7 separate regions of the Homo sapiens genome follow, and all the other regions are linked to region 4. Evidence: fine-mapped expression QTL. A gene starts in region 4. Each other region holds a variant in brackets. All regions are shown on one strand. Distances are from middle to middle.

Region 1 (4,060 bases), 24 kb before region 4:
CAGCCCCACACGGCAGCGCCGCCTCTGGCTGGAGGAAGTCCTTCCAGAGGGTTCCCTGCACCCAACCGCACAGGCACAGCCCCGCACACTCCCACACTGGCAGCACCGCCTCCTGCTGGACAAAGTCCCTTCCAGAGGGTTCCCAGCTTTGCTCATTTACTCTTTCCTGCTCCAAACTTAGCTCCTAAAGGCAGGGCCCCCAAAGGGATGCTGATGGGTCCAGGTCTTCAAGGCAGCACTACACACCTTGAGGTACCCCTCAGTGAGCAGGCGGCGTGGGGCTCCCCAGGCCCACTGCGGAGTCCAGCTGGTGTTTTACACAACAGGATATTCCCCATGGAGGAAACAGCACGAGGAACCAGCTTTCAGTGCTTCAAGAATATTCTCGCCTCAAGAGGGGTGTGGGACACTGGGATGAAGATTCTGGGGTCAGACCTAAAATGGGCTTCAAGGAGCCACAGGGACAGAGCTAGGGAGGAGCAGGAAGGGGAGGAAGGGCCTTATCCTGAGCTCCAAGACAACAACTTCCCTCTCGCCACCACCAGTCCTGCCCAGATGTCCTGCCCAGGACCAGCCATCAGAGCCAGAACCAGAACCAAGGACTCGAACAGGGCAGGGGGCAAGAGGTCCCAGCAAGACACAGTCCGCAGCCCACAGGCAACGCAGACACCCTGTGATGGCCACAGAGGCCACAGGGCCAGCAGGAGGAAGCCAGGACTGTGCAAGCTGGTGACTGGGAGTCACCTCCCCGTGACTGCTAAGTGAGGAGGCCGGGCCTCCGCGCTGAGTGGCTCCTGGCAGGCTTACCTTTTTATCTTCCTTAGTCTTTCGAACATTTCGATGGGGACCAAAAATGCTTTGCATTCCAAAGGCCTTCCTGGACCACTCCCTCTTCGGGGCATTCAGCGGGGGCTGCGCGAAGCTGCCCTCCACCCTGTAGCGGTCTGCGGGGATCTTGCTCATAGGAGGGGGCAGTGTGCCGCAGTTGATGCTGGACCAGCCATCGGTGGAATCTGTGTAAGAGTCCTGGTCGCTGGTGTGTCCGCACTGCCACTCCCGGAGCACGTGGACCGGGAGCCAGCGCTGGTTGAAACCACAGCCAGCACCCACGGTGCCCCTCTTGGAAGGGGGGACTGAGCTCCTCAAGGAAGCTGGGGGCACCTCCACAGGAGAGGCTGGCCCTAGGTGCTTGTTTAGGTCCCAGAACCTGTCAGTCTGATGAGCGGCCTCAAATGGGGGGCTCCCTTCGGGGTCCGGACAGAAGGGCCCAGTCCAGGGAGCACCCCAGGGCTGGGCACCCCTCCCACCCACACCGTCCCACGCGCTGCCTCCGGGGCCGTGTCTGCTCGAGCTCCCACCCAGGTCCACCACAAGGACCCGGTTGCTCTTCTCCTCCTGGTGGAAGTTCCCAATGCCGCTGTCACTGTTGCTGCTGGTGCTGTTGTTCTGGTGGGCATCGGCGTCCCCGTCCAGAAAGGCGCGGGCCCGCATGCCCTCAATCAGCTCACCCATGTCTCGGTACAGGACAGAGATGAACTGCAGGACGGGGAGGGAGGACGCCGGGAATTCCAGACAGCCATTGGTGTCTGGGTCGGCCGTGCACTCAAACCCAAACCGCCGAGCAATGCCTTGGTGGATCTTGTGATTAAACAAGTCTGGGTCCACCATGAACACGTGGCAGGAAGTCCGCAGGGCGCCCTCCTCCTCCTGGGCCAGGCTCCCGTCGTCATTCGTCTGCATGGTAACCAACCCGAAAAATCGCCGGTCGTCCGGGCACACGGCGCTGAAGGCCAGCTTCTCGGCCGGGTACTCGGCCACGACTCCAGCCTTGTCAGTGCTCAGCTGCACACAGTCGTGCATGATCTTCATGGTCACCAGCGAGTGGATTTTCTGCTCTGCCCGCAGGCGCCGCATGCAGCCGCGGATGGCTTGCAAGCTGTCGGACTCCAGGTTGGAGCTCGTGGAAGGAAGCTCAATGGAGCCTAAGTAGCCCACGATCATCGCCACGTTTAAAATACTTGCATCCAATGCAAAATCGTCATGACTTTCTAGTCCAATGCTGAAAACCGAATCATCATGAATAACTTTTGATATTTCCTCCTTAGAAAGCATGTTGGGATTTGGATTATTTATACTTTCATGTCCAACATCAAATCGAGTTGCGGCCGACTC[T/C]GAAAGGGATCTTTGTTTCAATTTCAAGGGCTCTGAATTGCTCGCACAAAGGCTCGGGTTTTCAAAAATCATATTGAAAATTCCACCAGACTGCATTTCCTCCACGACTCGCTCTGCTCTGTTTATACCTAGTGCTTTAGAATCCAGCTTGGGCTTCAGCCAGCCTTTTCCTTCATAGAGTCCCCCTTCTTCATCACTGGAACAGGATTCGAAGCGGCCGACGCCTTCAGCAATCACCATGTGAAGGACACCAGAGCACTTCCCAATTAATTTCACTACATCTTCATGAGATGCTTTTTTCACGTTGATTTCATTGACAGCAAGTATCTGGTCTCCAGCTCGGAGGCCCACGAAATCCGCAGGGCTCCCTCTCATGACGCAGCTGAGCACACAGGGTGCCTGTCCCGAAAGCGTGAATCCGTAGCCGGCCCTCCCCCGGGCAACCTCCACACTCCGCACCCTTGGGGGCGACGGCCCAGGCAATGGGCGTTTGGAGGCCTCCCCAGCTCTAAACATTCTGATGAGCTTCCAAGACCAAGAGCACGTCTCATTGTTCCCTTGGAGCCATATTTCAAGGAATGCTTGATGCTACCATGTTTGCTTCTTCAAACAGTGCCCTAAGAAAGAAAAACGAACAGCTCATTATTAAAGAGCCCATCTTTCTCCACCACTCACTGGTATTAGCTAAACACAAAAAGATAATTCATAATAAAAACCACCACAGAAAGAGCCTCTAAGTGTCTATAGATAATAAATCTTCAAGTCAGGCTAAGAAACTTCCTTTCGGAGTAGAAAATGTCTCCCACAACTGCTACCTTGTTACCACACAAGTTCCTGCCAGGCCCACCTGCCACGGGTGTGAGGATGCAGGACTGCTTCCCAGCACTGCTTCCACACCCTGTTTGGATGGAAAGAGCCCCTTGCTACTCAAAGTGTGGTCCGTGGACTGGCAGCCCGTCTGAAAGGCAGACTCTCGGGCTCCACACAGAAGAAACACACCCAAACCCACGTTTCACAGGATGGCAGAGTCCAAGCGTGAGAAGCAAGGCCTGCTACAGGCTTCAGGTTCAAAGGCACCTGCAGAACACTGAGTCTAACCCCTTAGTTGATCATAAATCCCCTGACATAGAGTTTTCCCTCAGGAGAGGGGTCACCTAATATTCCATGACCCTCCCACATTAATTTATTTTGAATATACTGTGTGGGGGAAAACGTATTAGCCTGAAACAACCTCGATCAATACTGCAGAGGCCACTCAACAGGCTAGATAAAAACCACCACCTAAAAAAGCAGAAATGTCATATTAACTCAATTCTTCCAGGGGGTATAAAAGTATTGGTTGTCATTGAGAACAAACTTGTCAGTGGTCCGCGGATCACCCCCAGGCCAGTGATTCCCTAGGATTCCCAGGACTTGGCACAAAGGTGCTCTCACAGCTGAGATTCATTACAGCGAAAGGATTCCACACAAAATCAGCAAGGGCAGAGGTCCATGGGGCGATGTCCCAAAGAAACCAGGCTTGAGCTTCCAGAATCCTCTCCCAGCGGGGTCACGCAGGACGCACTTAACTCCCTACACAGTGAGCCGTGACAACGCATGTGCAGTGTCGTCACCAGGGAAGCCCACTAGAGACTCGGTGCCAGGGTTTTTACTGGGGGCTGGGCACATGGGCACCCTCTGCCTGCTTCGTGCCCAGACTCTGGACTCCCAGAAGAAAGGAAGGTTCTCAGCACAAACCTTGTTCCCCACACAAGCAGCTAAGCACAGGGAGCCCCTCTTCATTGAGGGTGGTGGGCACCGTCCTGACACCAGCGGGGGGCCAGCCTTGCACACAGGCCTCTCAGGATGGTCTCGGGCCTGCTGTGTAGTCTCTTCTGCAAGACTCTTT
Region 2 (4,060 bases), 130 kb before region 4:
CAGCGGGGCCCAGCTCTCGCCATCTCGCGTGGCCTGCCCAGCACCTGCGGTCACCACCCCACGCGGTGTTTTCTTTCTTAACCCCATTCACATCATAATGGCGCAGCCTGGAAATGCCAGCTGAGTTCTTCCATCTACAAAGTGCAGGTGAGAATCAGGACATCTCCATGTGACCGTGCACTGGGGGCATGAGCACAATGCCCGGGCCCAGCAGGTGCAGTGGGGGCAGGGCCATCCGCACTCTCTTATCTGATCACATTGGCCAACAGCGGAGGATAGTCCAGGGTTGGTTGCTTTGTTTCTCATTTTGGCCTCCCTGGAGCAAAACCACCTCTCAAATATCAATTCTTTTTGGAATGACCAAGGTACAAATAAACCATGATGGCTCCCACTGCACAGAACGAGAACTGGGGATGGCAGAGGCTGTCTCCTCTCCTCCAAGGGGGACAACCAGATCAGGGGAAGACACCGCTTCTTGGTGTGCCCTCTTCAGTGAACAACACAGAGGCTGCCAAAGGGAACAGACAGTGCCTGCGGTGACGACGCCCGGGCCCCGTGCAACACTCACCAGCCTCACCAGCAGGCCACTGAGGTCCAGGCCGTATCTGGCCACCACGGGCCGCAGCACCTCCGTGACGGGCTTGGTGGGCTTGGCCTTGAGTCCCACTGACCGGTTAATCGGAACAAGATCCAGCCTGGTGGGGGATGAAAAAATTCACTACCAACTCATGTCAGCCCTCATTAGGAGATCAGTCTCACGAGCAGAACTACAGCACAGCCCCAGGCCGCCCTCAAGGCCTCGGTGTGCCCCCCAGTTCAGCCCCAGCTGATCAGAACGTGCCTTCCTCCACGTGGGAAAAGTCAGGCCAAGCAAGGGCTATGGTCTCCTCCTCCAGGGATAGCAGTGTCCTGCACAGCAGCCTGGCTACCTGTGGGGCATCCACCCTACAGAGAGCACTCCTGCCCCTCCCTCTCGGCATCTTAGGGGGCTGGGCTCACCAGGCCAGGGCAGTCCCTGTTCACGGGACAGGGAGGAGAGGGCGCCTCTCACCCCCGGGCTTGTAGGGGGGCTGCCTCGTGTGGGCCTCCACCCTCCCCCCGCCCCGACACCCCATCGTAGCCCAGCATGGAGCATCCACAGGCCGCCCGCTAAGCGCAGAGACCAGCAGGTGGTGGGCACACGGGGTTGGCTCTGGGAGCCTCAGGTGAATGACAGCGATCTTCCTCTTACCGAAACAAGGTGCGCTTTTCTAGGCGCAGGTCCCTTGACTCCAAGATGCTACTGTCTTGGTGCAGCACCAGAGGCTGAGGAACAGAGAGACCAGAATCAACGTGGGCACAGCAGGCAGCCCCCCAAACGCAGACCCACGTGCCCCAGGCACACAGCTGTGCAGAGCAGAAGAGCAGCTTCAAAAACAGCCATCCAAAGAAAGCGATCACCCTTTCCACACCAACCCAGCACCCACGTGCAAAGTGCTCCCAGCAGATAGCTCAGTTCAGATAATCCGGCCTCCGCCCCAGGCGCTGTTGAAATGAGGAGCGCAGGAGGGGGCAGCCTGAGGACTCTGACAAAGCTGGGGGCCAGGGAGCGGGGAGGTCATGGCCTGAGGGCAGCACGAGGGTCAGGCGGGCCCAGTACCTTGTCCCCGCCCACCAGGAAGAGGTCCGCGGCCGCCCCGTTGATGCCATGCCGCTCACAGAGTCCGGACAGGATGTCTTTGATGGAGAAGCCCGCCTTGACAGCCACCACGCAGGATGTCCCATCCGGGAGATGAATGCAGCAGTGCTTGGTGGCCTTGTCCTTCTCGGGTGCCAAAGTCCTGCAGGCCTCCGACTGGGGAGCAGCGAGACAAGCAGCCGTGAGGGAACCAGCGTCACAGGGGTGCGGGGCACCTCCCAGAGCAGCCCAGCTGGCCCAGGCCGCACGTGCTGGGGAGGCTGGCGCCCTGCCACGGTCCCACCTGCAGCTCCCCAGGTGCACACATCTCAGGCTCAGTCCACACTGCCTGAGGTGCTGGGTTTTGTGAATTAACACGAGAGAGCGGTCATCATTCTCTCAGCTCTGGGCCTCAAGGGCCATCGTGCTCAGAAGGCACATCTGGGCTTCTCCACCCAGAAGCAGGGCTGTCCTGCGGGGCCCACTGAAGCTGCCCTGTGAGGACCACTCCCTCCCAGGGCTCTGGGTTCCAGCACCCTGTCCTCTCTATACACAGCTCCCCATGCACATCGTTCCAATGGAAACGTCGCCTGGACTGTGACTTCGTCGGCACTGCCTTCCGGTAGTCTGAGGTCTCTTTTCCCTGAGCATTATTTCAGGAAACTAGTTTGTACAGTGGTAGGCTGGCTGCACAAGTGGTTCCCAACCATCCCCTTCCCTGTATCTGTGCCCCTCATAATGCGGCTCTGTGGCTCCTCCCATGAAGAGGTGGAGTCAGCCCCAGCCCAGACCTGGGTGGGCAGAAGGAGCGGCTCCAAGCCTGGGCCTCCAGAGGCC[G/A]TCCTTACTCTGCTCACTGTCAGGGTCCCTGAGCCGGCTGTGGGACGGGGTGAACTGGCCTCCGCTGAGTGAGGCGAACGAAGGGTCCTGTCAGTGCTCCTTCCCCAGCCAAGGGCCAGCCATGCAACTGAGGGCCTCTGGGACCAGCCAGCTGGCTCACGTGCCAGGTAACCAGAAACACACGGCAAGGCCGGCCAGAATGGGCAGAACCACCCAGGCGACCCAGACACCCAGCACAACAGTAATTGTTTCCAGCCTCTGAGTTTGGGGGTGCGGAGGTATTAGGCAACAAGAGCTAACTGATACCTGGTAAATCCTTACAGCTTTCAATGTTATTTGGAACAACTGAAGAAGAAATTATATTCTACATTCATTCCTGCCTGAAAATTTCAAATGACCAGGATGCTGGCAACCAGTGAGGTTTTCCAAAATTCCTATCAAACAACATCTAACAAGCTCACGAGTCCTGCCTGCGCCTGCTCATCTCCCTCATCTGCTGGAAACTGGGGCCAGGACGAGCACCAGCCAAGCAGTGAGCAGGTGTGAGAGGGTGTGGGTGAGACAGGCGGCCCGCAGGCAGAGGGGTAAATCCTGCAGTGTGGGAGTGGGTGGGATGCTCACGCGCTGAGACAGGGAGCGCCTGATTTCGACACCTTCTGTTGATTCTTAGTGGGAGTTCACAAAAACTAAATTACAACAAAAAGACTTAAGAAATAAATCCAAAGATACTTTGAGTTCCCTCCCTCGTATAACTAATAGTTTTTCGTGCCCTCTCAGGAGCCCTAGGCTGGGGGACCATGAGGCCGGGGCCTGATGGGGCACTGGGCCACCCTGCACTTTGCCACTGTGCCTGGGCCGGCACCCGAGCCTTGTCCCCCAGCTTTACAAAGTGAACGCTGAGTTTTGTAAACACAGGTTTCCATGGGAGAGAGGTGTCATCAGTCAGCTGGTGGGGACACCCCTGAGGCCTGTGGGACGAGGGGAGACAGTGACTCACCAGGTCCAGGCTCCCCGCAGAGGACACAGAGCCCTGCGACTCTCGGCGACACAGGCCTCCATTGGCATGCAGGGCGTCTTGACAGGGGAAACACAGTGACTCACGTCAATCAGAACCCTGTTTATTCGGTCACATCTCCCAACCCTCTGCCCCCTTTAGGCTGAGCAGACAGACGCCAGGAAGCCCCCCCCACCCATCCCCCACCAGGCATCACTTTGCCGTCTCTGGTGGAGACGAGTCACATGTGTCTTCCTAACCCTGGAAGCCAGTCAGGGACCAACAAGGCTCTACCCACCATGCAGCAGAGATGCTACTCTCTGCCCTGTCTACTGCCACATCCTGGCTCCAAAACATGCTTGGCTCATGGCAGGTGCCCAACAAATCACATCAGTACGTGCAGTTACACAGCACAGACCCAGGTGCATGTCCCGGTAAGGGCCTTTCCTCCATTCCATCTGGAGCTTTCATCCCCAAATGTAGTTTCTGGGCCTAACTGGAAACCCCCAACTGTGGCAACAGCCAGCGCTCTCAGCCGGATGCGGCCTCCAGACCCACTCGGTCCACGTCCT
Region 3 (4,060 bases), 47 kb before region 4:
ACTAGTATGATGATTAGTAAAGATGAAGGCAGGTTTTCAGCAAAGTCGTGCTTTTTCATAATTTTGTAAGCACTTTAGGAAATGAAAGAATCCCTAAGCATTCAGCTGGTGTCTGAAGACCCAACCAACTCCGGCGCAGGAAATAACTGGCTATTAAAACATCCTGTCTCTCCTCCTCCAGGAAATGACCAGAATTAATTCAATTCGACAAACATCTATGTTGTGCCCATCATTATGCTAGACACTTCCCCAGATGAGAAGCTGGCTCCAGCAAATCAGTCGCCACCTCTTAAAAACAAAAAGCATCACAGTTGGGAGCTCTGCTTTCCTGAGGACTTGGAATCCTAAGTGACCAATTTCAGGCTTGAAGGAAGGGAACCTGTTTATGTCAAGATTTTGAGGCTCTGCAGCTACTTTTGTCTCTCCACCTGCATAAGAGTCTTGTAGAAAACCTTGCCACAATTCCTTGAGAGTCCCTAGGGAAACCTACAGCATGCCTGCACCTTTCTGGAAGCAGATGGAGCAGGCCACCCTCCCGCCTCTCCCCTCTCCTTGACCACCACGCTGACACACCCCATCATGTCCTCAGACCCATTCCCGCCTGGGTCTCCCTGCACTGCGCTGCTCCTCCTCAACTGAAAAGTCCTTCCTACCCCACCCATTGTCACGGCCCAGCCCCACACCACCCCACACCCCGGGGCCTCTGCAGCCCCTACCCTCCGCCCACACCTCCATCCTCCACCCTCCCTTCTGTCCACACCCCCATCTCTCCACCCTCCCTCCCCCCACACCATCTCTCCACCCTTGTCCCCTCCCCACACCCTCATCTCTCCACCCTCCCCTCCGCCCACACCCCCATCTCTCCACCCTCCCTCCCCACACCCCCATCTCCCCTCCCCCCACACCCCCATCTCTCCACCCTCCCTCCCCCCACACCATCTCTCCACCCTTGTCCCCTCCCCACACCCTCATCTCTCCACCCTCCCCTCCGCCCACACCCCCATCTCTCCACCCTCCCTCCCCCCACACCCCCATCTCTCCACCCTTGTCCCCTCCCCGCCATACCCCCATCTCTCCACCCTCCCTCCCCCCGCACCCCCATCTCTACACCCTTGTCCCCTCCCCACATACCCCCATCTCTCCACCCTCCCCTCCGCCCACACCATCTCTCCACCCTCCCTCCCCCCGTACCCCCATCTCTCCACCCTTGTCCCCTCCTCCCCCATACCCCCATCTCTCCACCCTCCCTCCCCCCATACCCCATCTCTCTACCCTTGTCCCCTCCCCCCATACCCCCATCTCTCCACCCTTGTCCCCTCCCCACCGCACACACCCCCATCTCTCGACCCTTGTCCCTGCCCACACCCCCATCTCTCCACCCTCCCCTCCGCCCACAGCCCCTAAAGACGGGCAGAGGGGTGTCACTATCCTCTTGGCAGGTGAGAGGTCCAGCACCCAGGGGCTGTGGCTGCCGGGAACACGAGAGGATGCTCGGGGAGGGACGCCACCACTGGGCCCCCACCAGGCCGAGAGAAGGCTCTAAGGCTGTCATCCTGAAAGTGGCGATGCCCAGCAGAGGGCAGCCGGCAGGCAGAGGCCTAGAAGCACAGCGGCCAGGTGCCAGATGGACCGGCCAACACAGGTGTCAAGCACACTCCAAGCTGAGGCGCCACAGTTGCCAGCTCACTCCAAGGCACTAGTGGCACAACTGCTTGTTTTCAAACTAAGGAGCAGGCCCCCGTGCACGCCGTGCCTCCGAGGCTGGAGAACGGACTGCACTGGCCTGCACCGGCCTGCACC[T/GGCCTGCACCT]GCCTGCACCTGCCTGCTGCTCCCATGGGGCTCAGCTCAGGCTCCCGCCAGCTCCTGCCTTCTGTAAATCAGCCTGTAAGACACTCTTTGGAGGGAACCTGTGGTCCCATTAGGACACAGATGTGGCTTCCTGGTGTCTCTGCTCCTGATGGCAGGCACCTTGAGTGTCCTGCCAGCGTGCTCTTCTGTGGTGACTGATAAATTGCCACCCCCGCTCCCTCCTGCTTAGGCTGGCGTCCGTGTCCACGCTCTGGGTCCACACCCCGGGCGCCCGCCTCATGGCCTTTGTGCATGTTCTTCCCTCCCCTGACCCCTCAACCCAAACAACCCCTCTTGTAAGAGACCTTTAAGCCCCCGTCTAAGTTAAGACTCCCCAGCGTCCTCTCTCCCAGTCTTTGGGTCTTTTCCTTCCCACCAGTGACACCGCTGTCAGCCATGAGGAATCTCCCCCAGGGGACTGCCATGGGACGACAGCAGCAGCGCCCTTCGCTTCGTCTGATGCTGTCTGAAAACTTGCTGCCCAGCACAGCGCCCGGCTCCTGGCAGGTGTGCGGCCCCGGCAGAGGGGAGGCCTGAGAAGGCGCTGGGCAGTGCTCATGAGACACACGACACGGAGGCCACAACACGGGGGACTGACTGCCCAACAATGGGGAGCGCAGGGCACCTGTACGGCATGCAGACGTGTGTTGCGGCAACAGCAATAACGGGAAATGTTCAGTCCACTGCTAAAGCAATGAGTGACTTTGTTCTCATTATAGATTTGCTATTCTGTATTTTCTGCTCTTGAGAAGGGTGGGGAATGAACCCATGGCTTTGTGAGATTAAGGCTGTCAGAATCAAAATGAATCACTTGTGTTAAAAACCCTAACAAACAGAGCTGGGGAGGGCCATGAAGGGAGGGCTCACACATTAGTGTGCCTGCGAAAAACAAATCCATCACAAAGATGTGCAAATCACAGCCATGCACACAGGCCATCACAGCCTCACTCAAAACACACTGTGAGGACATCTGCCCAGCAACCGCCCGCCCACCTCCAGCCTGGTATCATCCTTGGTGCTGATCCTTGTGGCAAGGATAATTATCTCAAAACAATCATGTGATCCTCATTTTTCCTTTAAAAGCCTTTGTCTTCTTTGGCCTCCCCAGCTATGCACTGTAGACCATGGCAAGTATCTGCCTACTCCAATGCCCTGCTCCCAGATAAACATCATTTCTTTCAGAGAGCCTCTCTCTGTTATTTAGATGGACAGTGATAAGAGAGTTTAATTTTTTTTTTCTTTTGAGACAGGATCTCACTCTGTCGCCCAGGCCGGAGGGAGAGGTATGATCATGGCTCACAGCAGCCGCGACCTCCCAGGCTCAAGTGATCCTCCCACCTCAGCCTCCTGAGTAGCTGGGACCACAGGCATGTGCCAACAGGCCCGGCTAATGTTTGTATTTTTTGTAGAGACTGGGTCTTGCTATGTTGCCCAGGCTGAGCTGAAACTCCTGGGCTCAAGCAATCACTTACCTCAGCATCCCAAAGTGCTGAGATTACAGGTGTGAGCCACCACACCTGGCAGCCCTGACCACGCCCCAGGTGAGCGGCCCTTCCACAGTCAGCCTTGCAACTTGTTCCCAGCACAGGCAAAAGAAAGGATGTCTGACGCCTGCCCACACGTGGATGCACTGTGCACTTTGGAGATGTAAAGGAGAAAGGAAAAGTCTAACAAGCAGACAGAAAACAATTCTTGCAAAGCACTAAATCAACTCATGGAACGAGGGCCAGTAACAGATGTGACAACTTCCACAGCAGGGAGAGACCAGCGTTTACTCGTGTTTCTCAAATTGACAAAGTTTTGTAAATTAATAAATTCAGATCATCACCGCCGATTTAGCACCCCTGCTGGTGTGACATAATCTTGACTCTTCCCCAAAGAGTACTAAACAGGGAAAACAACAATAAAAATGGCCTAAAAGACCACTTGGTTCAAACTCCAGCTTTTAAGTTGAGAAGACTCCTCACGACTGTCTGAGAAGACAGGTGGCCCCCAGGGCACCATCTCCACCTCCCAGCCTTCGGCCACCACACCCAGCACTCAAGGGCACTGAGTGGAGCAGACACCGCCCGCCCGCCAACCACAGAGGCCGGTCACCCTGGCCCCCAGGCATCCAGGATGCAGTGAGCCAGCCTGAGCCAGCCGGCTTCAGGGAGAACCAAGGGCCTCAGGCCAATCAACCTGCCTGGCTACAGGGTCCCAAGGGACGGCCGGTCAACCG
Region 4 (4,060 bases):
TCACCACCTCCAGGACCTCACTGAGTCCCAGCTCCCAGCGCCACAGGTCTCCTCGGCCTGGCCACCCCTTCTTCCCCGAGACCCTCATCCTAAACAGGGCAGAAAGGGAGCCAGCCCTTGACCCTGGATTCCCTCCTCTTTGCAGTGCCTGTCGAGTGCCTCCCTCCCACCTCCTGACCCTCCCCAGGACATGCCCTCAGGCCGCGCCACCCCTGCCCTCTCCTGAGCACTCCACAGGTCAGTACTGTACCTCCAGTCCACGTGAGGGGCCTTTCCTCCGCCCTTGTCTTTGTCAACCTCCCTGAGACCTCCGGTCACCACTGCCCTGTCGCTCCTCCCTCTGCTCTGCCAGTCACAGAGGCATCCGCATCATTGCAGTTACCAGGGCTAGAACTGTAAGCCTGTCTGATGGCAGGTTCCAGCCTCAGGAGGTCTCAGAGATAAGGCTGGACTTGCAGTTTTAAGAAAAAGACCCAGACAGGGGTGCACCAACTTGTGCAGGCTCAGCCACCCCACTGCCCTTGCCTGAGCCCCTGCCCTCAGCCAACATGGCCTCCCCCACCTGCAGAGCATCCAGCTGAGGCACCACGCAGGGCCCGGGCACCGGATACCCATCATCTCAAGTCCCCAAAAGCACTGGCCACGATGGACCTTTTTATATCGCTTTTTCAGGGGAAGAAACTTCGCACTGTGACAATTACTTTCTAAAGTGAAATATAAACTGGTTCTCCCTTACTCAGAATTGCTCTGCCCTCCCCACGTCGCCTTCTCTAGGGGAAGGCCAGCAGGACTCCACCCCAGCAGCCCTTGCTGCCCAAAGCCGCCTCTCTGCCCTCCTTGGTAGTCTCCTTGCTGTGAATGGTGGGGCTGCTGCCTTGCCTGGGAAGGCCCCCCAGCGCCCCTTCTGTGCAGGCCTTGCCGGCCATCCTGCACGTCCCTGTGGCCTCAGAAGGGCCCTGCACAGGACGGCATGGACCACGCTGAGGACTTCAGACAAAGACACTCTTAGCCCTTGCAGCAGCTCCAAAGACAGGTCCAATGAGGAAACTCAGGCACAGAGAAGGTGGTCACCTGCCCAGGGACACATTCCCAGCAAGTGACCAAGCAGGTGAGAGGCCAGGTGGTCCTCTCTGTCCACACTCCACGGCTCTGGGCCCCCTCTGTGTTCACCCTCCACTGTCTACACTCCATGGCTCTGGGCCCCTTCTCTGTCTGCACGGCTATGAGACTCTGTCTACACTCCACAGCTATGGGTCCCCTCTCTGTCTACACTAGATGGCTCTGGGCCCTCTCTCTGTCTACACTCCACGGCTCTGGGCCCCCTCTCGGTCTACACTCCACGGCTCTGGGCCCCCTCTCTGTCCACACTCCACAGCTCTGGGCCCCCTCTCTGTCTACACTCCACTGTTTATACTCCATGGCTCTGGGCGCCCTTTCTGTCTACACTCCACAGCTCTGGGTCCCCTCTCTGTCCCCATTCCACAGCTTTGGGCCCCTCTCTGTCTACACCGCACGGCTCTGGGACCCCTCTGTCTACACTGCACAATCGCGGCACCGCGGCTGAGGCGACCCCAGGTCGCTGCAGTGCGTCTGGAGTTCGGGTCTCGGAAGGCAGCTTCTGCCCTAACAAAGCGGCCGCTCGTGGAGTCCGACGAGGGAACCCTCCCAGCGCTCCCGGGCGCATCTCGCCCGCGGGACCCCCTGCCCGGCGCCGCCCCCGCGGGTCCCGCCAAGGGCCCGGGCGGGCCTCACAGCGCGGGGCCCCAGGAGGCCGCGCACCCGCCCGGCCGGAGGCCCCACAGGCCCGCGCCCCGCGCCGCCCGCCCCCGCCCCCGCCCCGCCCCGCCCCGCGCCGGGCCCGGGACCAGGAGCCTGAGTCAGGCCGGCGAACAAAAGGCAGGGCGGGCGGGCGGCGACCCCGAGGGGACGGGCGCCGCGCAGGGCTGGCCGGGATCGGCCGGGAGGCGGAGGGCGCGGGCGCGCGCCCCGGAGACGAAAGAAAGAGCGGAGGCGGCGCGCCCTGCCCCCGCCCCGGCCCCGGCCCCGCACACCTACCGGGCCGCGCCGCTCGCTCCCGCTCCGGGCGCTTCGGCCCGCGCCACCGCCCGCGCGCGCAACGGTCGCCTCGGCAGCCACCGCCCCCCGGGGTCGAGGCGAGGGCGGGGCCGAGGCCGGAGGAGGGGCGGGGACGGAGAGGGGCGGGGCGAACCTGGTGAGGCGGGGCCAAGGGGGTGGGGTTGGGGCGGGGCGATGCGGGGGCGGGGCACGGGGCGGGGCGAGGGCCTTCGCGTCGGGACAGCGTGGTAACGGGACTGCCAGGGAAGCAGGGATGAGAAGAAGCGAGGGACGGGGCCTCCACGGCCGGGGGCGGGACTTCCGTTGGGGGCGCGGCGGCGCTGGTGCGCACGGTGTGTACCCGCACTGGCCCGGCCCTGGTGCTGGGAGCGACTGCGTTCCCGCAAGCTGGTTTTCTCTGCCTCCGCTGGCCCGGGACACCCTGCGAAGGGCAGGTCGGTGTGGCCGGGAGGAGCCGCCCCTGCCTGGGCTGTCTCTGTCCTTCGCCGTCGGTGTCCGAGGAAGTCCCGCTCCCGTTGGGTCTCTGTGCCCGGGAAACCTGGCTGTGGGGAGTCAGGCCCCGGCGCCCTGGCTTTTCGGCTGGGCAGATGCCCGGAGCTGGCGGCAGCTTCGGGGGCGGCGTGAGTTCCCGCGGCGAAGCCACGGGGACAGCCAGGAAAGGCCGTTCCCTCCGGGCCCCGGGACGCCCGCGAAGGCGGCGCGGTGACTGCGGCGTCCAGCGGGTCTGCCCCTCCCGGAGCGCGGGCAGCAGCGAGGGCGGGACCGGAGGCACCGCTGGCACGAGAGGAGGAGCTGCCCGGCCCCGGCCTGCGCCTCTGGCCCTGTCCCAGCCGCCGCCTTCACCCTTTAGGCCGGAGTTCCTTCCTCGCCCTCTTCGTGTCTTCCTTCCCCGGCGCTGGGTCTCCCTGCCCCTTCCTTCCTGCCTTCCCCTCATTCTCTCCCGCCGCGTTTTTCCCTCGAGACGCATCCGTCGCTGCTGTTCACGCTCCAGCCCTGCCGCCCGCCCAGGGACTCGGCCCCTCTCGGGTTTGCTTCTTTCCTGTCACCTGCCTTGATGGGCTCAAAACGCTTCCCCTCCGTCCCCGCCACCGCCCCATGGTTTCTTGGCAGCTCTCCATCATCTAGTCTTGTGTGATTAGTTTGGATCCCAGGAGGAAACCAATGGCATTCTCAGTGGGACAATTAATTAAGAGTCCAGCAGGGTTCCCGCTGGCAGAGGCGCGGTCCGGGAGCCGGGAAGCCACAGGGCGGTGCTGAATTGGGACAGGTAACAGCAGGGAGGGAACTGTTTTCACCTGCAGGGCTGAAGGAGCGCGGCCAGAGCGGTTACAGGAAGCCAGACAAAGAGAGAGAGATACTTAACAGGAGCTGCGACCTATGGCCAAGGGACACAGCCAGCCCTTGATGACCCAGCAGAGAGAGCCAGGGAAGAGGCCAGGCGCGGTGACTCGTGCCAGTAATCCCAGCACTTTGAGAGGCTGAGGCGGACAGATCGCCGGAGCTCAGGAGTTCGAGACCACCCTGGGCAAGATGGCAAAACCCCATCTCTACTAAAATACAAAAAATTAGCCAAGCGTGGTGGCACGCGCCTATAGTCGAAGCTAGTTGGGAGGCAGAGTCAGGAGAATCACTTGAGCCCCGGAGGCGGAGGTTGCTGTGAGCCGAGATTGTGCCACTGCACTCCAGCCTAGGTGACAGAGTGAAACTCCATCTCAAAAAAAAAAAAAAAAGAGCCAGGAAAGAAACTGCCCCCACCCTGGCCCCCCCAAAACTGTGGACCTTCTTGGCTCCTGCCTATGCGCAGATGGTGGAATCTTCCAGAGCAGCGCCAAGCCAGAAGGAAGCAGGCCGCAGAGCTCAGCCTCCTGAGGCTCCAGGGCAGGGACAAGTGGCCCTGAGTGAGAGATGGGGAAACACCACCTGCAGGTCTCTTCTTTCCCTTTGGCTTTTTCCTCTACACTTGCCCGGCCTCCAGGTGCCTCAT
Region 5 (4,060 bases), 140 kb before region 4:
GGAGACCCACCCACATGCCTCCCGGGACCAGACATGCATGGGGGCACCGGCCAGCCTGCATGGTGCATGGTCTCGGTCTCGGTGCGTGGTGCTGGGGCTAGACAGACGGGGTGGAGTGCCGCGTGGCGTGTGGCGCTGGGGCTAGAAGCATGGGGCGGTGCGGTGCATGACGCTGAGGCTAGAAGGGCGTGGTGGAGCACCACGTGGCGCAGGGGCTGGAACAGGGTGGCATGGCACGTGGTGCTGGGGCTAGGATGGGGTGGTGTGGCATGTGGCACTGGGGCTAGGACAGGGTGGCATGGCACGTGGTGCTGGGGCTAGGATGGGGTGGTGTGGCATGTGGCATTGGGGCTAGGACAGGGTGGCATGGCACGTGGTGCTGGGGCTAGGATGGGGTGGTGTGGCATGTGGCACTGGGGCTAGGACAGGGTGGCACAGTGCATGGCACTGAGGCTGGAAGGGCAAAGTGGTGTGGCACAGCTCTGTGGAGACTCCCCCTACCTCAAGGCTGTTGCTGGCAGCCCCCACGCGTAGCCGGCATGCTGCCCACCATGGCAATGGGGAGGGCGGGAGCCCGTGGGCTTGGCTACACCTCCTGTTGTGTTTCTCACCCCGGACGCTGGGTCCAGGGCGGCTGCCACATTGTGAGGAAGCATCCCACAGCAACTGTCAACGTCGGAGAGCGTGACCCGGGATGACCCCCAAGCTCCTAAACCCTGAAAACGGACAGGTCAGCACTCAGTCCAGGCTCGCCCCGGCCCACAGATGTGAAAGAGGTTCCATCAGGCCACCACGGCATTCACAGCCTGTTTCCTTTGCCGCCATGGGCAGGTGAACTCTCCAATACAGAGAATCCCATTAGAGTGGGGGTTCCAGAAGCAAGCTGCACAGAGCAGTTTCTGTCCCAACGCCCCCCAGCAGGCTTGAGCCAACATCACAGGAAGACTGGGCAGGTCCTCAGCAGTTGTCCTGTGTCGCCACGGACAGGCACGTGGAGGACACACACCTACGACCTATGGCCAAAGCCACTCCCACCTCCTTCTCCCACTCACTGGGTCTCCTCCTAGGAGACAGCCCAAGAGCCAAGGATCCAGGGTACCCACCTGCCCAGGGGCTGAGGAGCCAGCGGGGCGGGGAACCAGTTCTGGCCAGTGGCAGTCGGGGCAGCCACCAGAGCGCAGGGGGACCTGCTCCTCCCAAGGCCGGTACCACCCACCCTCCTGCCACAAACAAGTCAGGGATGTCAGCCGGGGCGCTCAGCTGGGCCTGCGCTGTAAACCACCTCTGTGCTAATGGCCCTTGGCAGGCAGGAGAACTGACCCCCCACGTGGGTCTGTCTGGCCCTCCCAGGCAGCCTGACACACGCCACACCTGTGCGCAGAGCCAGCCACAGCCCCAGGGCTGCAGGGCCGGGGTGTGGGTGCGGGACTGCAGCCCGAAGGCCAGCAGGCCAGCTCATCTCAGCACCCGCCACCGGGCCACCAGCTCTTCTGCTGTCCCGCCGCACAGCTGTGCTGCTGGGAGCACACCAGGTGCTCAAGAGTTTTGTTCAGTGGATGGTATATTTTTAAAAGCCAGTAGATTACGGTAAATCCACTTAATCTCCTAAAAATGTGTGATATTTCCCCTAGATTAAAATACTTTTATTATTTTCTAAAGTGGAAACAAAGTTTCAAATGAGAAAGAAAAGTTGTAAGCCAGTCCAGTGATGATGTCCAGAATTTATTACTCCTGGAAGAACAGACTCAAAACGCAGGTGAGAGCCACACAGGTGTCCACCAAGACGGATGGAGGGGGACTCAGGCCAGGGGTGGAGGCTGCAG[A/T]GTGGCACCGGTGGGCATGCCAGGCACCTCAGGCTTTCTCATCCAGGCGTGTCCTGGCTGTGAAAGGGACCAGGTAGCCCCTCCCATGCCACACGTGGCCTCCAAAGGCCCAGATATGTACAGATCTACAGACGTGCACTCCCTGGTCCCCCGGCGAGGTCCAGGCTACAGGTCTGACAAGACCAAACCTCACGGCAGGCCTCTCACTGCTGTCAGCATCCTGGACCAGGGCACAGGACGGAGAGGCGCTCCCATCGCCCCCAGCAGCAAACCACAGCAGAGGTGTCCACGCACCCCTGAGCACACTCCATGACGCGCACCCTGAGCGGCTCCTCTCTCCAGGGGATGGCCACGCAGGCCACGGCCCTCGGACCCCTGGAAACACCTTTCCCTACCGGCTGCTGGGAGCCTCGCCTCAGTTTCTGGTATTTGTGGCTCACGGAAACATCCCTGCTGCCAGGCCATCCTGTTCACCTTCACACTCACTGAATCCCCTGCTTCCTTTGAGAAATGCCCGTGACACCCGCGGTCAGAGAGCGCTGCTGACGTCACCTCCACTCCCGAGCACCCACACCACCTGCTACGGGGGCCGCCGGTGGGTCCGAGCTGCACTCTCAAGGCTCTTCCGAGGACGGGCCTGTGTCTGGGAGCCCTCTCCTGCTATGAACACAGCGGGCTTCACTTCCTCACTCAAGACAAATGCTATTGTTTTCCAGTCTTGAGACAGAAACACTAAAAACGATCGCTGTCCAGATTTGGAAAGGAATGCCTCCATTTTCGGAAACCCCCAGGCCTCACCCAGGGTGTTCCCAGACCTCGCTGCAGGCACTGCCACGTATCATTCCTGCAAGAGCCTCTCAGGACACCAGGATGCCTGCCCAGAGCGCCTCGGGGGGACCATCCTGACAGACACTGGCCTGGGGCCACACGAGCCCCTCCTTTCCAAGAGGGCCAAGGAAGCCCCCAACCAGCAGGTGAGGAGGGGGTCACGGAGACCACCAGCAAACAGTGGCAGCCGGGGGCCCACTGTCCTTTCTGACTGGAAGCTGAGCAGACCACGCTTACGGGGCCAAGGTGGAGGGATCAGAACCTGGAGGTACCTGGTCTGGAAGGTCCTGGCACTTCCTGGGGGGTGGAGGGCGGCGGCAGCAAGGTGCTGTTGGGGCTGCTGATGTCCCCCTCCCCCATCAGGGTCAGCTCGGCCACGTGCTCATCCTCCACCGTCTGGATGCCCCCGGCCTCCACTTCCTGAGACTGCCTCTTCCAGATCTGGGCGGTGCCCTCCTGCGCGAGGGAGACGGGGGACTGGGGAGTGCAGAAGGGCCCGCTGGGAGACTTCTGCCCGGGGGGGGTCGTCCCAGGAGGTCCAGGGGGGCTGGAGGCTGAGCCCGGGCTGGTGGACGGGCTGTCGCTGCTCTCCTGGACTGGCTCCCACTGCTCGCCAGGCTGGGAGGCGCTCTCCCGGCCGTTGCCTGTGGCGCTTCTCTTGCTAAAGCCCTTGGCCACAGCAGCTGGAGTGGGGAGGGTGAGTTCTGTGGAACCAGGAGGTAAACGGAGGAACTCTGGCAACACCAGGTCTTCCTTCCTTAGCAGCCCACGTTGGTCATCTGCTCTGTTGCTCTGAGCTTTGGAAATAAGCTCAAAAAACTCTATTGGAAGAAAACCCAGAGTGACCGTGTTTTAGAGAGTTTCACATTAATGACTGTCACCGCAGAACATTCTAGAAAGCTCTCATCCTGGGCTGTCCTAACACCCTATCAGCTGTGGGTCAACAAGAGCCCTTTTCCGTCCACACTATCTTCCCACAGACAGCGGAAGGGACAGCCCTGGGGCTTCTAGCATACTCTGTCTTCAGGAGTCTGAAAAAGCTGTGTACTCCCTAAAAACCACGCTGTGTGAGGTCCAGACTTGAACAAACGAGACGCTTGACTCAACACGGTTACGCGCTGATGCCGTCTGAGTAGGAAACTGTGGGACTCTCTGGCCTGGGCTTTCAATTTAACACTTGGGGCCCTCTGAGGACTGGCCCCCTCCTCCGGTTGGTCAGCATCTGAAGCACCCGCCCGGGTCCCAGCTGCAGCTGCAGTCCTCAAAGTCGGGAGCAGAATGAACCCGAGGAGGGGTGGTAGAGGAAGGCCCTGAGACGGGTGGTCTGGGAAGGGGCACCCTCAAATCCACGCCTGCCTCTCGGGGTCACTGCCTCTGGGCAGAGGGTGGTCCTCCCAGGCCTAGGGCAG
Region 6 (4,060 bases), 98 kb before region 4:
AAAGTGCTGGGATTACAGGCATGAACCACTGCACCCAGCCAACATTTTTGGGGTTTTAAAGCAAAGCGTGAAGAGAATCAGTAGAAAGAAATGAAAAAAATAGAAGGAACTGCTAAAGATGAAAACACAGTCTCTGAGATGACAGGCTGATCGGCAGGAATTCCCTCACAGGAGGGAATGAGCTGTATATCTGACACTAAAATGACAGATCAGTGAACTGCAGGATAGAGCAAGAGAAACAATGAAATGGCAAGCATGCAGGCGACACAGAAGCCTGAACATGAAACGGCCTCCATGAGCTGAAGGGAAAACCAGGTGGCCTAACATGCTTGCATAATTAGAGTCTCAAAAGTGGGAAACAATGAAAAAAATACCTGAACCCCAACAAATCCCAAACACAACAGACACAGAAAAACCAACCTGAGACTCATCATAATCAAATTGCTGAAAACCGACAATAAGGAGAAAGTCTTAAAAGCTTTCTGTTAGGTGGTATGCCCAGAGGGGATCTCTTCCCACAGTCTATCTAGCCTGGGGGTAGGGGAAGGATCTTCCTCAACTGCATAAAACTGCACAGGTCCTGTCCCTGAGAAAAGCCCTTGAGCTCTCCCCACACTCAGGATCTACTTCTAGACCTTTTCCTTAAATCATTTTGGCCAATCTGATTTTCAATCCAATCTACATAATGCTTTCTTTCTGCAAACTTCATACATACTCTCCTGAGAGCAAATCTATTAACATTTTCAGACCATTTTGAAAGTCCTTAGGTTAAAAGTTCCAGAAATTTAAAATATTAATTATTTTAGTAAACTATTAAGATATACAGAAAAGTGCACAGATTATGAGCATATGGCTTGGTGGAGTTTTGCAGGTGAACATCCTCCCAGACCGAGAAGCTGAGCAGGAGGAGCTTCCCTGGAGCACCCAGGCAGCCCTCTCTGACGCCCCCAAACACCCCAGGCAGCCCTCTCTGGTGAGGCCCCCAAACACCCCAGGCAGCCCTCTCTGACGAGGCCCCCAAACACGCCAGGCAGCCCTCTCTGACATGGCCTCCAGACCACCAAACAGGGCGGACACTGCTTCTCACGCCTAGGGTTGCATGAGAGGAGTTCTTCGTTTGTTTTATCTTTTCCCCAAGAATCTAACTAAGAAACTCCCTTGGAGTGGGAAGGGGTGGCGCCTGCTTCCAAGTGTGGCCTCTGGGGAGGGGATGCAGCCGCAGGGGCACCAAGGGCTTCTGTGGTCACCCCAGCCCTGAGTCAATTCTCAGGCACAGGCCCCCTGGCTAGCACACGTTAACTCTGGAAGATAGGTATGCAGTTAGTGGTTTTATTACCTTTGAATTTGTTTGCTTGAAAAAATAATTTCACAATATTAAAAACTAGTAATAAAAACTCTCCAAATATCTTGTAGAATTGGAAAGAAACAAGTACATCGGAAGGCATCCTGGCAGAAATCAAGTCTCCACACTTCCAAAACTGAAAATCTCCAGTCTGACTCCTGTTTACAAATACTAATACGGTATTCCACACCCTACAAATACACTGTGTGATTCTGAGCATCATTTTGAAGTCCAAAAGCAAACCAAAAGAATGTGACATATTAAATCAAGTAAAGGGTTCTGGTTAAAACAACCACTCCCACAATAGCGCATTACAAATTAACATTCTGTTTCTGCTATTTAGCAAACATTTTTGGAAAATGTGCAATTAGGCTGCACTGTTTTTCTGATGAGGAAAATGTAAATTTATCAACTAATTCTATGTAAGTACTGATGGTTCTACTCTCAAGCTTTTCCCTTTCTCTTTCAAAATTGTATAGAATACAAATTTTGGCATTTGCCAAAAATATCAACAATTATACTTTATATTTTAAAGAGGAATGCAGTTTAAAGTCCCCCAAGTTAATCCGGCAATTACGGTAACCCTCCCCCATCAGGCAGCCGTTTGTGACAGCTCCCCAGGCCTCAGTGCCTGTTCGCTAACAAGGACCGGCGAGATGAAGACACAAGGCTAGGAGAGAGAAAGTGACTTGCCCCAAGAGATCGGCCTGTCAGCTGTGGAGCTGCAGGTGGAGCCCGAATCTTCCGCCATGGCCAGGTCTGAGCTCCAAAGGCCCGCGTGTTGGGTGAAGGCACTGGAAGAGCCTGGCAGGCGCG[C/G]AGAGCAGCCCAGGAGGAGGCGGCGGCAGTGGGTCCACCCCGCAACACCAGTCACACAGGAGTTTCTGCTTCTGTGCTTGTGTGTGCTTTTTGAGAAGGTTTCACGACTAAAAGGAAAATCACTGAAAGCCACTGTCCCCGCCCAAGCCTCGCCCTGACGCTCTGGCTGATGTCTGCTGAACACCCGATCATTCACTCAACAGACAGCTCTCGTGCCAGCCGCTGTGCCGGGTGCCGGGACAACTCTGACCTGCCACGTGGAGGTCACACCAGCTGGGGGGACAAAAGCACCAACACAGATGAATAATTAAAATGATGGAAGCTGCCCCTAGCACGGGCAGGAAATTGACAGTGGCCATCGCTCAGGATGGGGGCAGGTGGTCAGGAAGGGAAGAGGGAAACCGCATGTGCCTGAGGCACCATTGGAGACCAGGGTGGGACGCAGGATGGTTGGGGGAACAGGGGCTCTGAGCTGGTGGAGGGGTCCAGTGCAGGGGCTGGGCAGATCACTGCTGCTGCTGTGGGGGCAACCACCAGCGTTCAGGAGAAGGGAGCGGGAGGATGGCTGCAGAGACAGGGCCAAGACTGAGGTCTGCATGGAGGACGAGTAGGGGGGCAGCTGAGTGGACAGAGTGGGGTCAGGGCAGAGCTGAGGCACAAGGCATGAGGAGGACATGGGGATGGAGGACTGCGACTAGTACGTGTCGGGGGTCCCCAGGGTGAGGCTGCGAGAACGGAGTGTTTGAGAAGCAGCTGGAGCACCGGGGTCATGTATGTGGGGTGTCATGTGGACCTGCCACCGTCCCCCAAAGCCAGAGCCGCACAGTTCCCCGGCTTTCCTGCTGGCACAGACGCCGTACGCAGGAGGAGGTGGGCGCTCTGGGAGCTCCCCGATAGTCTCCACACCCCGACTTCAGAAGGTGAGGTGGTCACAGCGGGAACATCCACCTGTGGAGGCTGCAGTGGGTGAGGGGATTCTGGCAGGCCTCTTGGCACAGAGCTTGACCAACGGAGGAAGCCACAAGAACGGGCTTCTGTGCGGCCGCGGCTCCAGCTCTGTGCAGAGCCAGACCAGGAGAGGTGAGAGGTTCCTTTTTCCAGGAGCAACCGGGCATCTTCCTTTTCTCATTTCTTCACAACGCCCCATCTCCCTCCAGCTCGACCTCACACTTCTGTCTGAATAACTTCCCACAAGGCAGACCATTCCCCTGCTAAGCCTCTCTATAATGCTAGAATGTGCTTCCTTCTCTCCAGCTGGAATCTGCTCCCTGCCCCCACCCACAGCCCTGCCGTGCCCCCCAGAGACCAGCTGTAACCCTTTTTCCCGAGGGCACTCTTTGGCTACAAACGGGTGGCCATTATCAGCCCCTTTCTTCTGAAAAAGTGAAAAAACACACTCCAACTTGACAAAGATTGCCAAAATAGCATAGTCCAACTTCCTTAAAACCGAGCCACAAAACTAAAACTCTCCAGCGAGAGCCTAAGCTATAAAAGCACGATACGCGTCACAGAATGAAACCGTGGCATGAACACGAACTCTCTCACTGGCACGGCTCGTTGAACACAAAATATTTCTAAGTGAGTGATCTATTAATCACCAAAACTAGACAGGATGACCAGGCAGAGACAGCCCAGCTGAGCAGATTGCTCCCCAAGCCAACTCCTCAGTCCCTCCTTGGAACTCGGGGAGCATTTTTCCCATAAAAACACTGGGGTGCTGGAGTTCCCAGGCCCACCTCAGTGCACTGAGTCTCCCACTGACCACAGCCTATAAAAAGATCTCTGTGTGGAAACACAGCCAGAGTTTCCCTGGGACCACCCCCCCACCCCGACCCCGCCCAGGCTCCTGTCACTGCCGTGGAGGGCAGGGTGTGGGGGAGGGGGCCTCTTTCTGCCTGAGGC
Region 7 (4,060 bases), 91 kb before region 4:
ACCACTCAGGGTGGCAGCAGAGGAGTCAAGCCCAGAGCCAAGCCCCGGATCTGGTGCCCGCCCACCCAAGCAGTGCAAGAGCGGCCACCAGCAGGAGGGTTGGGGAGACGCCTCCGAGGAAGGGGCTTGGAACAGTGGAAGGGGCTGGAGGAGAGCAGGGTGGCTGGCTTAAAGGCACCAGGGACAAGAACAGACAAGTCAAGTTATGAAGGAGGGGTGGCAGGCGGTACCGGAAGGCCAGCGTGACCAGGAGGAGGCCGAGAACTCGAGACAGTCAGCTGAGCCAGGAGGAAGCCGAAAAGAACAGGAAGCCACGGCGGCCCCAACGGGAGCCCTGATCAGGGCGACCTGGCACTGCACTGGCAGGAAGGGCCCAGGGCGCAGAGCCGTCAGGCAGGTACGGGACAAGCCCAGGACTCAGCCCAGGAAGGAGAGGAATCAGAAGAGGCTGGCTCACCAGGGGACACGGATGCCAGGAAGTGAGAGGGGGTGAGCAGAATGGAGCTCCAGAGGCTGGACAAACCCGTGTTTGATCTGATCCCTGGGCAGGCACTCTGCTGCTATCTAGGCAGGAACCCCTTCCTGCGGGGACCTCCCAGACGGCCTGGCAAGGACCCACTTCTGTCCTCCTCTCTGCCAAGGCGAGGGCTGCCAGGGCCAGGGGAGCGAACGAGAAGGTGCTGCCGTGATGGGCAACCTGGTACCTCCTGGCCACTCCCGAGAAGTGGAGGTCACTGGGGCTTTAAGACCCCCCCACGCCAAAGTCCAAACAAGTGAGGCCCAGAGGAACCTCCCAAGGGGGAGGGGACCAAGGAAAAGGAGCCAGGGCTTCCAGCTGCTGCCCCTACCGTGTGGCCCTCCGGGACACACACTGTATGGGTTTTAACACGAGCGGTACACCCACTGGAATTCTGCACATCCTGTCTGACCACCCCAACCTCGGCACAGGGCCCCAGCCCTGCCTCCCAGCCTGCCGGCAAGGGCAACCATGCCCCGACGCAGCCTGGCCATCCGGGGTCCACTGCCAGCCCTGGCCCTGCGACCTACACCAGCTATGCGCATCCTCCTCCCCCGCAGAGTCTGTCCTCTGGCACCCAAAGTAAGCCCCCTGACAGGCACTGTGTGAGACCACCTGGGGCCAGCTTCGGAGGGTCCTGCCCCCCAACCCACTTCCCAGTAGTGAAAACACACAGCAGCCTGCATCCATCTCTTCACTGTCCTCTCATTGGCCAGGAAGGGGAAAGAGCACACACCCCTGAAGCCACCATGTGGCCCTTGGCCCTCAGCCGCAGGAACTGGTTTTTATCAGAGGCTCTGGGGCAGCCACGTCACAGATGCTGACATACACATTTTGGAAGGCTGTCATTCCTTCCATGCCCGCAATAAATCATCCACAATCATGTCGCAATCTAAATAATATCACAGGAAGGCTGGGCGCAGTGGCTCACACCTGTAATCCCAGCACTTTGGGAAGCCGAGGTGAGTGGATCACCTGAGGTCAGGAGTTCGAGACCAGCCTGGTCAACATGAAGAGACCTCGTCTCTACTAAAATATAAAAATTAGCCGAGCGTGGAAGCAGATGCCTATAATCCCAGCTACTCGGGAGGCTGAGGCAGGAGAATCGCTTGAACCCGGGAGGTAGAGGTTGCAATGAGCCGAGATCGTGCCACTACACTCCAGCCTGGGTGAGAGAGTGAGACTCCGTCTTAAAATAAATAAATAATATCACAGGCAATCTATACCTTTGAGATTATGAGAAGAAAATCCACAAGGCCATACACAAAATCAGAAATGCTGTCAATAAGATCTGAAAGATAAATCATAAAATGTAAACTTCATAAATATGAAGGAGGTGTTTCACTTCATGTCACGCTCATGAGTAAAATTCAATTCTCAGAATCTGGCAGGCCGAACAAAGTGCTCTAGAAAACCTCTATACACGCAGCATTTACATCCCCCAAATTAGCTGAAACTTGAGAACCAGGAGAGAGGAGTGTCCCAGAGGCCAAACAGACTGAAGGAGAAGGTGGCCAGGGAGTGTGTGATGCCCACTGAGAGGCCAAAGAATATGGGCATGGGCCATCGCTGCTCCTGTGATGGGCACAGGCTGCGGGCACGTAGGGCTAGACCAGAGCCTCTGGGAGGCTCTAAGACAGTGCACGGATGCAGGTAAAGTGTAGAGCTGTTTTAAAAGTAAACTTTACCTTTTCAAACAGCTTTAAATTTATGGAAAAAATTATTTTAAAGACAGTAGAGAGATACACATACTTTTTTTTTTTGACAGTCTCGCTCTGTCACCAGGATAGAGTACAGTGGCATAATGATGGCTCATTGCAGCCTCAATCCTCCTGGGTTTGAGCAATCCTCCCATGTCAGCCTCCTAAGTAGCTGGGATCCAGGAGTTCACCAACATGCTCAGCTACTTTGTGTA[T/A]TTTTTGTAGAGATGGGGTCTCATTCTGTTGCCCAGGCTGGTCTTGAATTCCTGGCCTCAAGCAATCCTCCCACCTTGACCTCTCAAAGTGCTAGGATTACAGGTGTGAGCCTCCATGCCCCACCCAAACATGCTTTTTAATATACCGCTACTCCAAAAAGAGTAAAGGGAAATCCCTGAAAAGAGACGAGGAAGGAACAGAGGGGGAAGCAGTTAGAAAATGCCAATGCCACTAGGGCCGGGTAGCCCGCAGTGAGCCTCAGCCACAGCACGGTTGTCCCCTCAACCTGAGATCCTCCATCCAGCTCAGCCATGGCCCTCGGGGAGTAGTGTTGTCCTAGGTGCAACACTCCTGGAAGCCACATATATTAATGCAAATCCTTCCAGAAAGAAAACAGCCCAACAGGGGCCCTCAGGAGTTCCAGATAGTGAGCCCACTCGAATATGAGTTCACTATGAAAAACCCAAGGAGAAGCCCAGCATGAGTGGGTATCAGCAGAGACAACAATGAGCAGAGTCTCAGACATGGGAACAATCTAATGCAGAGCGTTGAGTAACCATCTGTGAAGCTGTCGAGAAACAAAGGCTGAAGCAGAACACGAGCACAGTGCAGGTCGGAAACAGAACCATATGGAATGTCCGACAGTGAAAATACAGTAAGTGAAGTTAAAGATTCAATAGGAAGGCTAAACAGAGATTAGGCAGTTGAAGAGAGGATTTGGGAACTGGAAGATGGAACTGAAAACAATTACACTGACCACAGTACAGAGGGATGGGCAGAGAAAATAAGGAGGAGAGAGAGAGAGCAGCAGAGAACTGAGGTGGTCTCCTCAGGATCTGAGATTCAAAAACGACTGTGGAGAACTCCTGAAGACCGTCACCTACAAATGGTGCTGTGAGCAGGACTAATGCAAGCCAGCAAGACTTTTCAGTGGATCCCATGATGTTGATCTCCCAAGGTGGTCACAGGAATCAAGACACCCACCACAGTGGCTCAGCACAGCATCCAGTCGGCACTCAGCACAGATATACTAATCATCAGTGTCGCTTCCAGGCCACGGCTGGGCTTGTCTGTGCTCAGGAGTGGAGCTGAGGAGGAGGCAGAGGGACTGAGGGCTTGTCTCAGCATCAGGAAGGGCAGGGAAGGAGAGGGCACCTTGCGGTTCCTTTCTTCATTTCAAAAAGGGACATTATATCTCTGACAAGAACTTTTAGAAGTTATGTCATCAATGCAAGTGGAAAAAATAATGCAAAATGATATCATGGTATAATCACAAATATGTAAAATTTTCTTTAAAATGTAAGATCTGTGAAAATACACTCTTAAATACTGAAAAGACGTAACTAGCCACAAAGGAACAATATCCAAAGCTAACAGCAGTCAACCGCCCTTGAACGGTGACGTTACGACTATTTTTTGACAAATAAAACTTTGTGGTGTACAAAGTGGTGCTGGGTGCTGGCAGGGAAGCCTCTGGCCTTCACATACAGGTGGCTGGACCCCAGTTTACACAGTGCACAGCTCTCTCACTCCCAGGTATATTCATTAAACAAAAGCAGTAAGATTCATGGTAATTATAAATGATCTCTTTGCAAATTAAGTAATCTTGTCAGGAAAAGTCATGACC

Direction of the effects. Positions count from the first base shown, and alleles are read on the strand shown. Sizes are in standard deviations (SD) of each study's normalised expression. Not every link is listed here.
In carriers of allele G in region 2, the expression in prefrontal cortex of the gene that starts at base 2,134 in region 4 tends to be higher than with A alone (small effect, 0.27 SD a copy in CommonMind).

The links. PIP is the estimated chance that this variant, and not a neighbour inherited with it, causes the effect.
Region 1: its variant is the best candidate, but not a certain one, in a credible set for the expression of RGS12 in whole blood (INTERVAL, PIP 0.52).
Region 2: its variant is the best candidate, but not a certain one, in a credible set for the expression of RGS12 in prefrontal cortex (CommonMind, PIP 0.64).
Region 3: its variant is the best candidate, but not a certain one, in a credible set for the expression of RGS12 in CD4 T cells (CEDAR, PIP 0.88).
Region 5: its variant is the best candidate, but not a certain one, in a credible set for the expression of RGS12 in cerebral cortex (GTEx, PIP 0.79).
Region 6: its variant is the best candidate, but not a certain one, in a credible set for the expression of RGS12 in unexposed skin (GTEx, PIP 0.67).
Region 7: its variant is the best candidate, but not a certain one, in a credible set for the expression of RGS12 in pancreas (GTEx, PIP 0.88).

What each region holds. Positions count from the first base shown.
Region 1 is chr4:3,314,799-3,318,858 of GRCh38, reverse strand. It overlaps RGS12 (regulator of G protein signaling 12), which reads right to left. Exons shown (of 18, transcript NM_001394154.1): 2 at 808-2,789. The coding sequence starts at 2,688. Among named protein-coding and RNA genes, the nearest start is that of RGS12, 24 kb to the right of the region's middle. RefSeq lists an enhancer at 948-1,502. The variant T/C (reference allele first, on the strand shown) is at 2,173.
Region 2 is chr4:3,420,150-3,424,209 of GRCh38, reverse strand. RGS12 (regulator of G protein signaling 12) reads right to left here. Exons shown (of 18, transcript NM_001394154.1): 10 at 3,492-3,568; 11 at 1,640-1,834; 12 at 1,232-1,305; 13 at 569-695. Among named protein-coding and RNA genes, the nearest start is that of HGFAC, 20 kb to the left of the region's middle. RefSeq lists enhancers at 1-24, 3,291-3,792. The variant G/A (reference allele first, on the strand shown) is at 2,495.
Region 3 is chr4:3,338,503-3,342,562 of GRCh38, reverse strand. The region is part of intron 2 of RGS12 (regulator of G protein signaling 12); the gene reads right to left. Among named protein-coding and RNA genes, the nearest start is that of RGS12, 48 kb to the right of the region's middle. The variant T/GGCCTGCACCT (reference allele first, on the strand shown) is at 1,801.
Region 4 is chr4:3,291,095-3,295,154 of GRCh38, reverse strand. It overlaps RGS12 (regulator of G protein signaling 12), which reads right to left and starts at 2,134. Exons shown (of 18, transcript NM_001394154.1): 1 at 2,056-2,134. RefSeq lists an enhancer at 760-1,345 and silencers at 1,999-2,048, 2,059-2,538, 2,719-2,828.
Region 5 is chr4:3,429,819-3,433,878 of GRCh38, reverse strand. RGS12 (regulator of G protein signaling 12) reads right to left here. Exons shown (of 18, transcript NM_001394154.1): 17 at 2,924-3,472. Among named protein-coding and RNA genes, the nearest start is that of HGFAC, 10 kb to the left of the region's middle. RefSeq lists enhancers at 1-309, 310-811. The variant A/T (reference allele first, on the strand shown) is at 1,824.
Region 6 is chr4:3,388,687-3,392,746 of GRCh38, reverse strand. All of the region lies in intron 4 of RGS12 (regulator of G protein signaling 12), which reads right to left. Among named protein-coding and RNA genes, the nearest start is that of HGFAC, 51 kb to the left of the region's middle. RefSeq lists an enhancer at 3,678-3,827. The variant C/G (reference allele first, on the strand shown) is at 2,159.
Region 7 is chr4:3,381,822-3,385,881 of GRCh38, reverse strand. All of the region lies in intron 3 of RGS12 (regulator of G protein signaling 12), which reads right to left. Among named protein-coding and RNA genes, the nearest start is that of HGFAC, 58 kb to the left of the region's middle. RefSeq lists an enhancer at 219-298. The variant T/A (reference allele first, on the strand shown) is at 2,433.